2 linked regions of the Homo sapiens genome follow. The protein of the gene in region 1 interacts with the protein of each later gene in a pairwise test. Each region holds a gene or a part of one and is shown in the gene's direction. Other genes may lie near its edges.

What was found. Proteins that work in one complex are often made in the same cells at the same time.
Region 2: the proteins of RAB11FIP2 (region 1) and RAB11B interact in binary tests that used the Homo sapiens proteins (3 or more experiments, as listed by UniProt).

What each region holds. Positions count from the first base shown.
Region 1 is NC_000010.11:118,036,547-118,044,165, reverse strand, and holds part of RAB11FIP2 (rab11 family-interacting protein 2), read left to right. Parts: intron 1-3,600; coding exon 3,601-4,043; intron 4,044-4,725; coding exon 4,726-5,194; intron 5,195-7,619. UniProt on the Homo sapiens protein: A Rab11 effector binding preferentially phosphatidylinositol 3,4,5-trisphosphate (PtdInsP3) and phosphatidic acid (PA) and acting in the regulation of the transport of vesicles from the endosomal recycling compartment (ERC) to the plasma membrane.
Region 2 is NC_000019.10:8,393,237-8,400,855, forward strand, and holds part of RAB11B (ras-related protein Rab-11B), read left to right. Parts: intron 1-6,626; coding exon 6,627-6,822; intron 6,823-7,619. UniProt on the Homo sapiens protein: The small GTPases Rab are key regulators of intracellular membrane trafficking, from the formation of transport vesicles to their fusion with membranes.

The sequences.
Region 1 (7,619 bases):
CTCCTAGTCCTGGGCAACATCACAGTTACAATACATTTGGTGTGAGCAATACTCTAATATTATGGTCTCTCCTTATAGAAATTCTCTACTGGCTATTATATAAAATTGATTAGAACTTTAGGGGTAAAATGCTTTTAAATGTTATCAACAGGGTTTGTGATGTTATTGCATTCAAAGTGATTTTCATATATTGCTAAACCCTTAACATTTTATTTGTGGATAAATGGGGACCATGTATTTGATGAGATATCTTTATTGGTAATATTTCTAGTTTTTTAATATATTTAATAGCTTCCTTTTCTAGCACAGCTGTACCTGTGGCCCAGTAAGAGACAGACTTGAGCCGCCGGTATATTTCAAGGAAGATATTTAATATTCTGCACATTGCTAAACTTTTTCAGCATATTCCCAAGTGCTTTTTAGAAAACTGTTTCGAGTGATGAGGACTACCAGCTAACTTAGATGTCCTATGAAACTGCTGGGTGTGACACTTTTTACATTTTGACACTGAAGACATATATTTACAGCTTGTCTTCCAGTTGTGTCATGATAGATAAAGAAGTATGACAACTAAAATTATTACTTTACTTATTTTCTTACCTTGAAAATATATGTCTTTTTTCTCTCTTAAGGAATGGGGAAAAAGGGTCTGAGCCAGAACCCTTTGAGTGGGCCTGGGAAGAGAACTTCTGTATCTCCTCCTTTAGAGGATGTCTGGGTTGGTTCTGGCATGAGATTTAAAGAAATAATACAATGTTTAGTAATAGAATGTTAAAATCATTGATGCTGTTGTGTAATATCCATTGATTTTTTACAATAGAAGTAGGTGATGTTGACTTTTTTTTTTAATGCTCATGAAAAGTAATAACAACCAGAGTCTGTAGAGTTAGATGTGACTCAGACATATGCAGATTTTAGGACGTGTGTGTGTCTCAGCGGTGCACCTGTGTCCTGGCCTCTGGCACCCTTACTGCCAATTTTGTCCCATTTCTGACCACACAGCACCAATTGCTTGGGAATAGTTCCCATATGTGTGCTGGTTTTTGAACATGGACCTGTGCCCACTAAAAATTGAACAGAGGCCATGTACAGTTTAAATCCAGTACTCCAGAGGTGAAAAAAAGTCAGCTAATCCAGTAAGCTCCAAATGCTGTGTCTTCGTTTTATCTTTCTGAAGACTGGAAAAACAAATGCTATCTCTGAAATGATTCTTGAAGATCTCATTAAGACTTCCCTATTATGTCATTTTCAAAACAAAGCAACTAAAGTTATTTGTCATTGCTACATTTTCAATGAGTATATTTGTAAAAGTTCTTTGCAGTTTTTTTTGGGGGGTGGGGAATGGACATTATAGTGTATTTACAGTTTGTAGTCAAATACTGATTTGCTTTATTCAGGTTTACATAGGTCTTTACAGTTTCCTACTAAAAAAACAAGACAATGTAAACACATACACACACACACACAGTTGTAGCTTACTTGTAAGAATATAGTTCTAGAAATAAAAATTGAATAAACATTTAATGCAAGGCAGACTGCCTTCCAGGAGCTTATACTCTAGCAGTAGAAAATTTGCATTGTCTTTCTCTTCAGCTCTCATGTCTCCTTATTAAATACAGTGTCCTGCAGTATGTGCCAGCCATGTGGTTAACCTTATTAACATATGTGGTTCATCAAATAAGAAAGAGCTTCTATTTTCCTGCAGATGTTATTCATCAACTTTAGATTTTTTTCTTTATTGACTTTAATCTGACATTGGGAAGTTACATATCATTCCTTGTGCCTCAATTTCCTCATCTATGAAATAAAGATGTTAAAGTAGATGATTTATTGGTCTTATCTCTAAAAGTCTGTGAATTTCCACTACCCCCACCCCCTTCCATTTTGGGGGTAATTAATTTTTTTTTACTCATATTTGCTTTGATTTGTTACATACGTGCTCGTTTTTGTTTGCAAATTTTTGGTACATTTTTTGCAAAGTATATTCACCTACATTCTATAAAGCCTGAGGTACTACAGAGTATTTCTGAGCTACTGTTCGTCAGATGTGTTTCTCTCCCTATTGAAAATAGCTCTGTTTTCCAAAACTTTGAGTTAACTGGGTATATAATCTGCTTCATTTCCAGGCTTTTTGAGTGCTCAATTGTATGTTATTTAAGGTTGTCTATTTCACAGAAATCGCTGTCATTTCTTATTTCTAGCCCCTGTTTCTTCAGATTTTACCATTTGCCTTATATAAGGGATTTTCTCAGTTTAAGGTCTCAGGCTAATAGTATTTTAAAATATTGATATTCTAAGAAATGGCTAGTTTTGATGCAACTATATCTGAATTGATTGAATAGCTCCAATTTAGTTAATCAAGAAAATATTTTTCTTCCATGTTACGTGCAAAGATGTAGCTGGTATTTATATCATGTGCCAGTATTTCAACTTGATATACAGTAAATGTAATCTTCTCTTGGCATATCCAGTTGGTAACAATGAGAGAAAGAACTAATGTAAAATTAGATCAGAGTTCCTTTGTAGCTAAGAAAATTTGTTACACTCGATTAGAGCTATATTTAAATAATAACCTGTGTGCAGGAATGGATATTATGCCTCATTGCTAAGTTATGTGAAAACATTGTAGAAACTCTTTCAGGCTTGATTTTGTAGTTTTTTTTGGCTGTTTTCCCATAGAATGACCACTTGTGACATGGCCAACTGGAGAATTTCTCATGGATAAAAATACTATAAAACCAAAATATTGCTTCTTGTATATCATTTAAATACAGATAGTGCCATACATTGAAGGGACTAAAACGTAAGATTTGGCTTCATTTTCAAAATAATTTTTATTTGGTATTGTCACAGTAGCAATAGTAAAATGAAGCAAATAGATTCAAACAAGAAGCATTTTAGGTTTTTTTTTTTCCTTTTGAAAACTTCACAAGATTTATTTTTTGTCACTTCTTGCATTTTACTTATTTTTTGCATATTTTATTCAGGAGTAGGCTTTGATTCATTTTATGTCAATCTAAATGACATCATATGCTGTTTTAATGATTAGCAAGCTATATGCAATGATCTCCAATGTTAACAAAATTCTTTTGCTACTTTTACGTAAGTAATATTTTGGGATGGGGCCAGGTATTTATTATTGTATTAAAATGTCATGAGATTCATTTTATAATGCTCAAAAATAATTTGTATTGGTGAATTCTTTCAAAATCTCTGCCTCAATGTCTTTTAATGTTAAAAAAAAATGTCCTTAGGCCGTGAGCAACACTTAATCCCATATGGAAAACTTCTAGCATTGATAAGAATTTTTGATGATGAGTGATTTTCAAATTACAAAAGAAAAGATTATCTGAAAACATTTTCAAACTTGCCAAAGACCTATTCATTCCTTCAGTATATGTTACATCACAGAGACAATGATCAGTTTTTTAAACTAAATAATAAGTAAAGCCCGAAATACTGTGGCTGACAGATTCTTATTCAGAGCTTAGGTTGCCTTGATGTATAGTTACTTTACCTAAAAGGCTATTTGTATGTAACAGAACTCAGTATCCTCTCTCTATTATGTGTTACAGCCAATTTTTTTTTCTTCTCTTTAAGGTGGTTTAGATTAGAATCCAAACAAGGAAAACGAATCAAAAACAGGGGTGAGATAAAGGTCAATATTCAGTTTATGAGGAACAATATGACCGCAAGTATGTTTGACTTATCAATGAAGGACAAAACCAGATCTCCTTTTGCAAAGTTAAAAGATAAGATGAAGGGTAGAAAAAATGATGGAACATTTTCTGATACGTCTTCTGCAATCATTCCAAGTACTCACATGCCCGATGCCAATAGTGAATTTTCAAGTGGTGAAATACAGATGAAATCCAAACCAAAAAAGCCTTTTCTCTTGGGTCCTCAGCGACTCTCGTCAGCGCATTCAATGTCTGATTTATCTGGGTCCCATATGTCTTCTGAGAAACTGAAGGCTGGCACCATAGGTCAAACACATCTTCTCGGACACCAGTTAGATTCCTTTGGAACAGTTCCAGAAAGTGGTAAGTGTCACATTCTTGTGTACTCATTGGTCTGAACTACCCTTTTAGTTTTTAAAGTTTAATTTCTAAATTTAGTAAATCAAAATAGCAGTTGCTTTGTAGTATTTTCCAAATTTTGTCATTCATCAAATATTGAGTACCTACTATACCTCAAATTGGTAAGTTCCTTGAAGGCAGAGCTTGTCTGCATTTGTATTTATATTATTAGATGATAATAAAATGAGTGCCAGTTTCCTTTTATGGCTTGGCTGCCTGTTTTACTGCTGTTTCTGCTATCTCAAAACCCTGAGCATAAATGAATGTTCCATTTCATCATAAAGTCCTTAGAAGAAAACTTTTATGTTCAGAAGTAAGAAAGTAAATTTAATGCTAATGAAAAAGTCTCTGAGAATTTTTAACATTATCATGCCAACCAGAACCTCTAGTTTTGACATCATAGTTTATATGATTGTGAGCTGAATACATTACTAATGGTCTAGCAATATGCTAGTTGTTATCAGCCTCGATGCTTCAGACTGCTACACCTTAGCATTTTAAGATTGTTTCCTTGATTTTTTGAAGGTTAATACATTTAAGTGGCTAATTGCTCTCATTCTAAAAGCAGCAGAATGCACACAGACTGTGTCAAATAGTGTGATGTAATGTGTCACTGATTATGTACTAACTACAAAATTGTTTGTAGGAAGTCTCAAATCTCCACACAGAAGAACATTAAGCTTTGATACTTCTAAAATGAACCAACCTGACAGCATTGTGGATGAAGGTGAATTGTGTTTCGGAAGACAAAATGACCCATTTACAAATGTGACTGCTTCATTACCCCAAAAATTTGCAACACTGCCAAGGAAGAAAAATCCATTTGAAGAAAGCAGCGAAACATGGGACAGCAGCATGAATTTATTTTCAAAACCAATTGAAATAAGAAAAGAAAATAAAAGAGAGAAAAGGGAGAAAGTTAGCCTGTTTGAAAGAGTGACTGGAAAAAAAGATAGCAGAAGATCTGATAAACTTAACAATGGGGGATCTGATAGCCCTTGTGACTTGAAATCACCTAATGCATTTAGTGAAAATCGCCAGGACTATTTTGATTATGAGTCAACCAATCCATTTACAGCAAAATTCAGGGCTTCAAATATAATGCCATCTTCAAGGTAAGCTTAATATGGGGGAAGTTCTACTATTTGGGAAAATCTTGTACTTGAAGGTATCAAATATTTCTTTTAAATGCTAGAATATTTTCAAGTCATTTTATTTTATTTGAAAAACATTTTTATTTGTATAATTAAATTATAGAGCCAGGCAATGTTGCATATATTTTTGGAACTGAACTTTTTTATCTTAAGAAGATAAAAGACTCTTATTCTCTATCCTGGTCTACTTCCACTTATGTGAGCCAGAAATTCACCAAAACTTAGAAAACAACATGGCTTGTGATGAGACATGGCGAGAGTGAATTGCCAGTGGGTGTTAGTTCAAGCCAGAAATTTAGGTGATAATGTTTCTAGGGATTCGTTCATGGGCTACCTGGAAAGGACCAACAGCAGCCCATGTGCTATTCTTTAAAAAACGCCAGCTTCAGTATTAATGGCTTTCCTAATAGATGTTAATTATCCTTATTAAATGGCTATTTAGAAGTGGTTTTTATTTGAGAATGCTTGTTATTGGAATTCAGTAACCCTCATGGGTTCTGTAGGTATACCCAAGGGATCTATATGATGATTTATAGTCAGAAATAATCACTCATGAGAAAGATTGGATTTTCCAACTTTGAGTTTTCAGTTATATATATAATGGTGCTTTTCTTATTCCTTAGTATATCTAAATTATATCTATATATCTAAATTTAAATCTATATCTATATAAATTTATATCTACATATATAGATATAAGTGTAGATATGCTAAGGAATAAATTTAAATATGGTTATGGATTTTACAGAAGTAAACGATGAAATAGCTGATTAAGGAAACCTCAAGCAAAGAAAAGATAAATTTATTCCCATCTTAAGTATAGTTGGCCCCCCATATTTGCAGGTTCTGCATTTTTGGATTCAATCAACCATGGAGTGAAAATATTTAAAAAAATAAATAAGAAATAACAATATAGTAATGAAAAAATAATGCAGATTTAAAAAACAGTACAGTGTAACAACTGTTTACATTGGTTTACATTGTATTAGGTATTATAAGTAATCTAGAGATAATTTAAAATATATGGGAGGTTGCGTATATGTGCAAATACTGTACCATTTTGTATAGGGGACTTGAATATCCCTGGATTTTGGTATCCTTGGAGTCCTGGAACCAATCTCTCTCAGATACTGAGAGATGACTGTAATTATCTTGGAAGAGCATGCTAGAGTGTTTACCACGTAATAGAAGATTTTCTTCAAGACAATATTATAGAGTGTACAGACCTGAATGGGAATACTGGCTTAGAAGTGCTATGACCTCCATAAACCTCAGTATCTCCATCTTTGAAACAAGGAAAATAATCCCACTTGATAGGATTCGGTGAGGATAAATGAAAGTACATAATACAAAGCCAGGCCCCAAATAGGGAATCCATAAATGGTGACTACAATTATGTTTGATGTATCGTCATGTTATATTTTACTAAAAAACAGTGCTTTGTTTTGTCCCACTAGAAACAGCAAATAGAGTATTAACAATCAATCACTTTTAGGCTGTGCCCTCTCACCTCTCTTATGTATCTTCCATGATATTTTAAAAATTTGCATTTAAATTTTCAAAGTGAAGTGTACTTTTTTTGTTTTCTTTTACCTATAAATGGATATTTGCCATGGTTTAAAAGAGTATTCTGTTCTGTTTATAAACCATACTCCAGAAGAATAACATTTTTATCATATGGTATCAATATTTTATTGAAGAGTTTATAGTTTTGATATGCCATTCAAAAATATTTTGGTATTTTACATACTGTACTTCACATATTACATTAAATCTTATATGGGTAAATAGAAATATATTTGCTTCTTTCCCTCTTTACTAAACTTTTTTTTACAGAAGGTTGTTGGAAACAACTGTCTGAGGTAACTTGGAGATGGGGCAATTTAGCTAATTTTAGAGTCAGAAGAAAAGCAAGAAAATGGAAAATGATAGGAAAATAATGTTTTTACATTATGGGTGCATATGGAAAAAAAAGCTTATTGAGTATTTGCAAATCTTTAATTGCCCTGTATTTGAGTTGTTTATGTGGGCTGTTACGGGTTTTAAAAGTGCCTGTGGCATTTTGACACATCCAGGCTTTGTTTTCAGTTACTTTATTATTATTGGCTGTTTCTAGCAAAATTAGAGCTGTTTTATGATGTATGAAATGATTGCAAGTATGTAAAAAAAAATAGTTGTTTTTCATTTTATGACTTTCTCTTCTTCATATTTATGAGATGCCAGATATGAGGACAGAACATTTGTGGATTCCTAGGAAGTTATTCTTTTTGCATCACAAACCATCCGTGTGGTAAATGTAAAACATTTGCAGTAAAGGGGTAGTTCTAGTTAATCTTATAAAAAAGAAGAATTGAATATAAATAGACCCAAGAAGAGTGTGCAGTTC
Region 2 (7,619 bases), on another chromosome or scaffold:
CCAGATTTCTTTTCTGATGGACTCGGTACTCCATGGTTGCAGCTGTGTCCCCAAGGGCCACTGAGGTCCTCTCAGAGCCCTTCCCCTACCCTAGAGGCCCTGGCCAATCAGGGCTCACCTGGCCCTGGAGGACATGGGTCGTGGGGGAAACGGGCCGCAGCTGCCCCAGGCCCTGTCCTCTGGGTCTTGTCCACCCCTCCCCTGCCCAAGGACAAGGTGGCCCCTGTCCCCAGGGAAGGGGCCTGCCTGGTGCTTCCCTTTCTGTGCTGAGGCTCCTGAGGCAGCTCCCAGCCCTCAAGCCTGGGCAGACCTCACAGTGGGCCTGCTGTTCCAGTTGCTGTTTGGGGACCCAAACATACCATCTTCCCCATTTAGAATGGGGGTCCCTCCAGTGCCCTGGCTCTGTACACCTCCCCATAGAAGAGCTGAGACAAGAGTGGCCCCCAGTGCCGGTCCCTGGGGCCTAGGATGCTTAGGACCAGCTTCCAGGGGAGGGATGGGGGCACTGCTTGGCTCCGCCAGGCTCTGCCGGAATGGGGGCACCATTCCCCTGAAGAGTCTCTCAGTCTGCCTGAGCATTAGGGTCTGGGCCCCCAGGGCCACCACACTGTCATGGGGCAGGCCAGGGCACCTAGGACTTCTCAGAGGTGCCAGTTCTTTGTTTTTGCCAACCGGGCTTGCCTGCTCTGTCAGCCAAGTGGCGTGTCTGGGGTAGGGGGGTCGCTTCCCAGCCAGTGAAGCCACCAACTTCTGTGGAAATGCTCGGAGCTGTGTCCTCAAGGGCTCTTTATTTCCCCAAGACAACAGATTGCTTGTGTCCTAGACAATGAAGTTTTCATCCCCAGCCTGCATCCTGGACCAGCCCGCCACTGCCCCGCTGGCCACCTCTCTGCATCGGGCACCCAGTGCCAGGGACTGGTTGGGCAGCTCAGCCTCTTTGCCATTCACCTGTTTTGTCACCCAGACTGGAGTGCAGTGGCTTAGTGTCAGCTCACTGCAACCTCCGCCTCCTGGGTTCAAATGATTCTCCTGCCTCAGCCTCCTGAGTAGCTGGGATTACAGGTGCCTACCACCATGCCCACCTATTTTTTGTATTTTTAGTAGAGACGGGGTTTCGCCATGTTGACAGGCTGGTCTCGAACTCCTGAGCTCAAGTGATCCACCCGCCTTGGCCTCCCAAAGTGCTGGGATTACAGGCGTGAGCCACTGCACCTGGCCTGTCATTGATCTGTTCAGTGGCCATTTGGCCTTTGCTCTGACTTGGTCACTCTGGGTTGAGTGTCCCCAGCTGTTCAGGGAGAATGATAATATTTACATCTGTCCCTGGGGCAGCCCTGAGAATGTGGACAGCTGAGGCCTGCAAAGCACTGGGGACCCAGCCTGGCCAAAGTGCTTGAGGGCAAAACTGATGGGGCTGGGTGCCATGGCTCACGCCTGGAATCCTAGTACTTTGGAAGGCCGAGGTGGGTGAATCACTTGAAGTCAGGAGTTTGAGACAGCCTGGCCAACATGGCAAAACCCCACCTCTACTAAAAATACAAAAATTATCTGGGCGTCGTGGTGCACGCCTATAATCCCGGCTACTCGGGAGGCTGAGGCAGGAGGATCTCTTGAACTCAGGAGGCGGAGAGTACAGTGAGCTGAGATTGTGTCAGTGCACTCCAGCCTGGGCGAGGGAGATTCCATCTCAATACAAACAAACAAAAACAAACAAACTGATGGGGCTGAGGAGCCACTAAGGCTGTACAGCTGGGGCAAGGCTGGAATGGTGTGAAGGTGTCGGGAATGCCTGGGCAGGGCCCGAGTTTCCTGTCTTATTTCCTGAGGACGTGAGAACTGAGCAGACCTCCCTGGCCTTGGCCAGGCTCCCGTAGCTGCCGTGGAAAGGAGGTTAAGGTTGGTGGTGTAGATGGGGGCCCTCACAGTGAGTCCATCTTGGCCCCCAGTGGCCTGGGAGCCGATTCTCATCCCTACTGGCTTGGTTGGGAGGTGCTGGGCCACACGCCTACATTCACTCCACCTCTTTCCATCTTTCTTTTTTTTTTTTTTTTTTTTGAGATGGAGTCTCGCTGTGTCGCCCAGCTTGGAGTGCAGTGGCACGATCCCGGCTCACTGCAACCTCCGCCTCCCAGGTTCAAATGATTCTCTTGCCTCAGCCTCCACCACCACACCCGGCTAATTTTTGTATTTTTCATAGAGACGGGGTTTCACCATGTTAGTCAGGTTGGTCTCAAACTCCTGACCTCAAATGATCCGCCTGCCTCGGCCTCCCCAAGTGCTGGGATTACAGGATTACAGGCATGAGCCACTGTACCCGGCCATCTTTCTGTCTTTCTCTGAAGTCCACTTGGTAGCCCTGTGCGGGGCACCCATGGTGACGTGAGAGAATGCCAGCCCCGTTGTCTTAGGTCTTTCACGCCAGGCCAAGCAGTGGTCTTTGGGGAGAGGAGAGGTCTGAGCCGAGGGGTCTTGAAGGATGAGTAGGAGTTTGCTGGCCGCCCCAGGGGGACAGGCTGCCCTATGCGGTGGGAGCTGGGGTGCCCAGAGCCTCAATGCCCACCCCATAAGGCAGAACCACGACTCCCGAGCCACGTGCTGGGGTTTGGGGTAGGACAGTGAGTGTGGCAGTGAGTTGCGAAGGAAGAACTTGGACTGTGGATGCAGAAGACCTGGGTTCAAATCCTGCCTGGCTCACTTCCCAGGCGGTGGCTCCAGACAAGTCACTTGGGGAGCACCGTTGGGAGGTGAGGGCGAGCCCACAAACATGCATAGCTTCAGGGTCCTGCTCTGCCCCGCACCCCGTTCCCCATCCAAGCCTCAGTTTCCTCATCTGTAAAAATGGGCTACAGGAGGCTTCTGCGAAGTAACGCACATCAAGAGCTTTGTTAGCACAAGCTCATCGAATATTCTCCTTGTTCTTGTTATTCTTGGCTTCCAAGCAGCCAACCAGAGCGGGTACCAGGTGGGGTTGTAGGGGCTGCCTGATCCTGCCCTCCTCACCTGTGGCCCAAGGGTGGTGACCTGGCATCCTCTAGGTATGGGGCAGGCGGCATGCGTGGGAGGCTCTGCCAGCCTTTTTGGCATTTTGTTTGTTCACTTGACAGACATTTTCTTGGGTGTTTATTGTGTGCCAAGCACTGTGCCAGGACCTGATTCCTGCCCTTGGGGCAGACTGGCAAAAGATAAATGCCACCTGACAGGTGAGAGAGTGGCAAGAGTGACGGAGGAAGAACTGGGTCCGGGAGCAGGGTAATTCGGAGAGTAGAGTTTTAGTAGCATAGCAGGGAGGGCCTTCTTGGCCAAGTGGCATTTAAGGGGCCACACGAAGGGGATGAGGGAGGGAGCCAGGTGTGTGCCTGGAGAAGAGCGTTTCTGGCAGCAGGAGCAACCCGTGCAAAGGCCCTGAGGCAGGATCGCACCTGGCGTGTTGGGGGAACAGCATGGAGGCCTGTGTGGCTGGAGCAGAGTGAGCCGGGGGGGGGGCGGGAGGGAGGAGGGGAGGGCCCTGTGGGCAGCGGGGAGGACTGTGGCTTTTCCCCTGCGGAAGGTGGGGGCCACGGAGGGTTGTCTGCAGAGGAGGGAGGGAGGTGCCCTGGCTCGGCACTCACGGGCGCTCTCTGGTGGCTGCTGCAGGAGGACAGCGTTTTGGTTGGTGATGAGCGTGAACACAGGGACCGCACAGACAATACCTTCCAGGGTCTGAGAGTCTGGAATGGAATCGCCCAGGGAGACATGGTGGGGTGCACCCCTCGTCCTCCCTTCTCTTGGATCTGTTTCGGATGTGCTGAAGGATTGATTCTGAGATGCGAGAGAAAGGAAGGAGTCGAGAATGACTCCAGGTTTCTGGCATGAGTGCCTGGTAGGACCAAGCCAAAGTTAACCAAGATAAGGAGGGTAGGTGAGCGGTGGGTGAGCAGGCTTAGGGAGTGATCGGGAGCTTGGCTCTGCTCTTCTGGGTATGAGGGGCCTGGGGCCCCTGAGGAGACATGAAGGAGACAATGGGCACGCCAGTCTGGGCTTCTAGGGAGAGAGGTAATATAGGAGTTACCAGCCCATGGCTGGTATTTACAGCCATGAGCCTGGATGGGGTCACCTGGGGACTGGGTGTGGACAGAGATGCCTGTCCTGAGGCTCCCTGAGGTTCGAAGGTAGAGTGGGAGACTGAGTGGGAGTGACTGTGAGGAGAGGAGTCGGGGTGTGGAGCCCCTGCAGGCAGGGAAGGAGGGAGAGCTGGCTGGGTGCCTGCTGCACAGGCCCGGGGGAGTGGGGGTAGCTGAGGCTGACACTGACTGTGGGGGCGAAAGCGTGCTTGGTTTGAGTTCTAGGACTGGGGGACAGGAGGTGGAGTGAGTGAGTGTAGATGATACCTTCCAGTGCCCGAGGCAGGAAGTTGGGTCAGGAGAGAATGTTTTCTAGAGGGAAAATTCCAAACGTGTAGGTACAGCCCCACAGTGTGGCCAGGGGAAGGGCAGAGGAGGGCTGCCTGGTGGGCTCCAGGGCCTGCTCCCTCAATGTAGCAGGGGTCCCGAGTGGGGCCAGCGGACCTCTGGGTCAGCCAGGGCTCAGCCTGGCTGCCAGCACCTCCCCGAGCTCAGGAGGAACAGCCATACCCATCTCTTCCCAGACAAGGAAGCCTCATCCTCAGTGGATGCCCCCTAACTCCCTGGGACCAGGGATGACCAAGCCACTGAGCCAACCCACCCTCAGGTGCCGGGGCCCAAGGCCCACACTTGGGGGTCCACGGGGCTTCTGGCTGGGGCGTCTGGTTGGCTGTATTCAAGTGCACACACACACACTGATCTTCCCCACATGGTATGTTCTGGGTCTGGGGACAGCTCACCCAGACCCCACCCCAGAGCCTGGGGCGGCTGGGCCCATAGGGACAGTGCTTCCATGGCTGGGACAGGAAACAGTTTACAAGGCAGCTCACCCCTGGCCTGACCAGCAGGCACCTGCTCTGCTCAGGGAAAGTGTTCCTGATGCTCCTTGGCCAGCATGAGACAGGCCTGCTGCACACCCCGTGTCGACTGGGCTCAGGCCCCCGTCCCTGGGTGCTGTTGCCCACAAACCCTCATCTCTGTTCTGTCCACGCTGCGCTGACTCCTTTCTGGGCCAGGGTTTGCATCTTGGCAAGCTGCTCTGCTGTGCACCCCCCTCCTGGGACAATGCATACCTGTGTTGGAGCCTTGTGAGGAGCTGTGCACACACGTGGACTGCCACACGGACTGCCCCTTGAATGAGGACTTAGCCTTGGCTGGAGCTCCCTGCAGCTCAGCAGGGGACCTGACCCTGGGGACAGGGGTGGTGGGAGGTGGCTGCAGGCTCTTTCCTCCGGGCTGCGTCCTCAGGGCACATTCCTGTTTCCCACTCAGCCATCTGTGCCGAAGCTGGATGTGGGTTTGCTGCACCAGGAGAGGTGGGGGTTGAGGTGGGAGTAGCTCCTCATGTCCTGTCACTTACATACCTGGAGCAGTGACCCTTCCCATGCCCTGACCAGAAACCACAACAACCGTGACAGCTGCCTACTCGTGTCCCTTCCTGTGCGATGCCTGCTCTTTTCGTGGGGGGAGACAGAATCTCTGTTGCCTAGGCTGGAGTGCAGTGATTCGATCTCGGCTCACTGCAGCCTCCACCTCCTGGGCTCAAGCGATTCTCCTGCCTCAGCCTCCTGAGTAGCTGGGGCTACAGTAGCCACCACGCCCAGCTAATTATTATTATTATTATTTTTTTTTTTGAGATGGAGTCTCGCTCTGTCACCCAGGCTGGAGTACGGTGGCGTGATCTCGGCTCACTGCAAGCTCCGCCTCCCGGATTCACGCCATTCTCCTGCCTCAGCCTCCCAAGTAGCTGGGGCTACAGGCGCCCGCTACCACACCCAGCTAATTTTATTGTATTTTTAGTGGAGATGGGGTTTCACCACGTTAGCCAGGATGGTCTCGATCTCCTGACCTCGTGATCCACCCGCCTCGGCCTCCCAAAGTGCTGGGATTACAGGTGTGAGCCACCGCGCCCGGGTACTTTTTGTATTTTTTATAGAGACGGGATTTCACCATGTTGGCCAGGCTGGTCTCGAACTCCCGACCTCAAGTGATCCGCCTGGCTCATCCTCTCAAAGCATTGAGATTACAGGCGGGAGCCACCGTGCCTGGCCATGCCTGCTCTTACTTCCTCCTCCTGTGACTGCCTTCCTGTTCACACATTTGGAAAAAGTAGTCCAGAGGTGAAGTGACTTGCCCAAGGTCACCCCGCTCAGGAGCCTTCTCAAGCCGTGTCTGGCTGCCCAGCCACCAGGCTGCAGGTGGAGGCTCAGGGTTGATGGATCTCAAGCTGCTCTGCCTGCCTGGCTGCCTGGGTCCCCTTGCCCCAGCTGGGACAGCCCTGCTCTGAGGACCAGACACAGGCAGGTGTTGTGCTATCCGCAGTGGCTGTTTCTGGAAGGCAGGAGCCTGCCTTCACTTCTGCACCACTTAGCACAGTGCCTGCAGGCCCTGGGCTCCAGGCATCTCTCGACTCCTCCACACCGTTGGCAGCCGCGTTGGTGCAGCACCCAGGGAACCGGCGGGAAGGTTGTGGGGGCAGTCGTGGGTGGAGTGTGGGGATTCACAGAACCTCGCCTTCCCGCCCAGTGGTGCTCATCGGGGACTCAGGCGTGGGCAAGAGCAACCTGCTGTCGCGCTTCACCCGCAACGAGTTCAACCTGGAGAGCAAGAGCACCATCGGCGTGGAGTTCGCCACCCGCAGCATCCAGGTGGACGGCAAGACCATCAAGGCGCAGATCTGGGACACCGCTGGCCAGGAGCGCTACCGCGCCATCACCTCCGCGTGCGTGTCGGCAGCCTGGGCAGGGACGCTGAGATTCGGGGGCGTGGGCTTGCAGCGCGTGGGCTTGGAAGGATGTGTAGGAGTTGGGCAGGAGAAGGGGAGAGTGTGCTCCCAAGACCAGGGAGTGAGGCTGGAAGAACGCTTTAGCCATGCGCCGTGGGACCCTCAGGCTGACCAGCGCCCAGCCTTCGCCACACCAGGGTATCTCTGGGTACCAAGTGCAGTGAGGACCTAGCTCAGGCCACTCCGCCTTGCCGCTGCCCCTGCCCAGCCAGCATCCCAGCCTTCCTCCTCCCTCAGCTTCCCTCCTCACTGGTGCCCACACCTGGTCCCACACGCCTCCTGTCCTCCCACCTGGGCCTGGCCTCCATTCCCTGCAAAGGCTTCCCAGCCATCAGGACCCACTCAGCTGCCTTTTTCTGGACCCCTCCCAAGCCCCCCAGCCATTCCCACCACCGTCTTGAGATCCTCTGGGCTCCCTCCCATCTCCTTCATCCCTCAGGTACATCTGTCTCTCTGTCACCTCCTCTTGTTTTTTTTTTTTTGAGATGGAGTTTCACTCTTGTCGCCCAGGCTGGAGTGCGATGGCACGATCTCGGCTCACTGCAACCTCCGCCTCCTGGGTTCAAGCGATTCTCCTGCCTCAGCCTCCCAAGTAGCTGGGATTATAGGCACATGCCGCCATACCAGGCTAATTTTGTATTTTTAGTAGAGATGGGGTTTCTCCACATTGGTCAGGCTGGTCTCAAACTCCCGCCCTCAGGTGATCCACCCTCTCGGCTTCCCAAAGTGCTGAG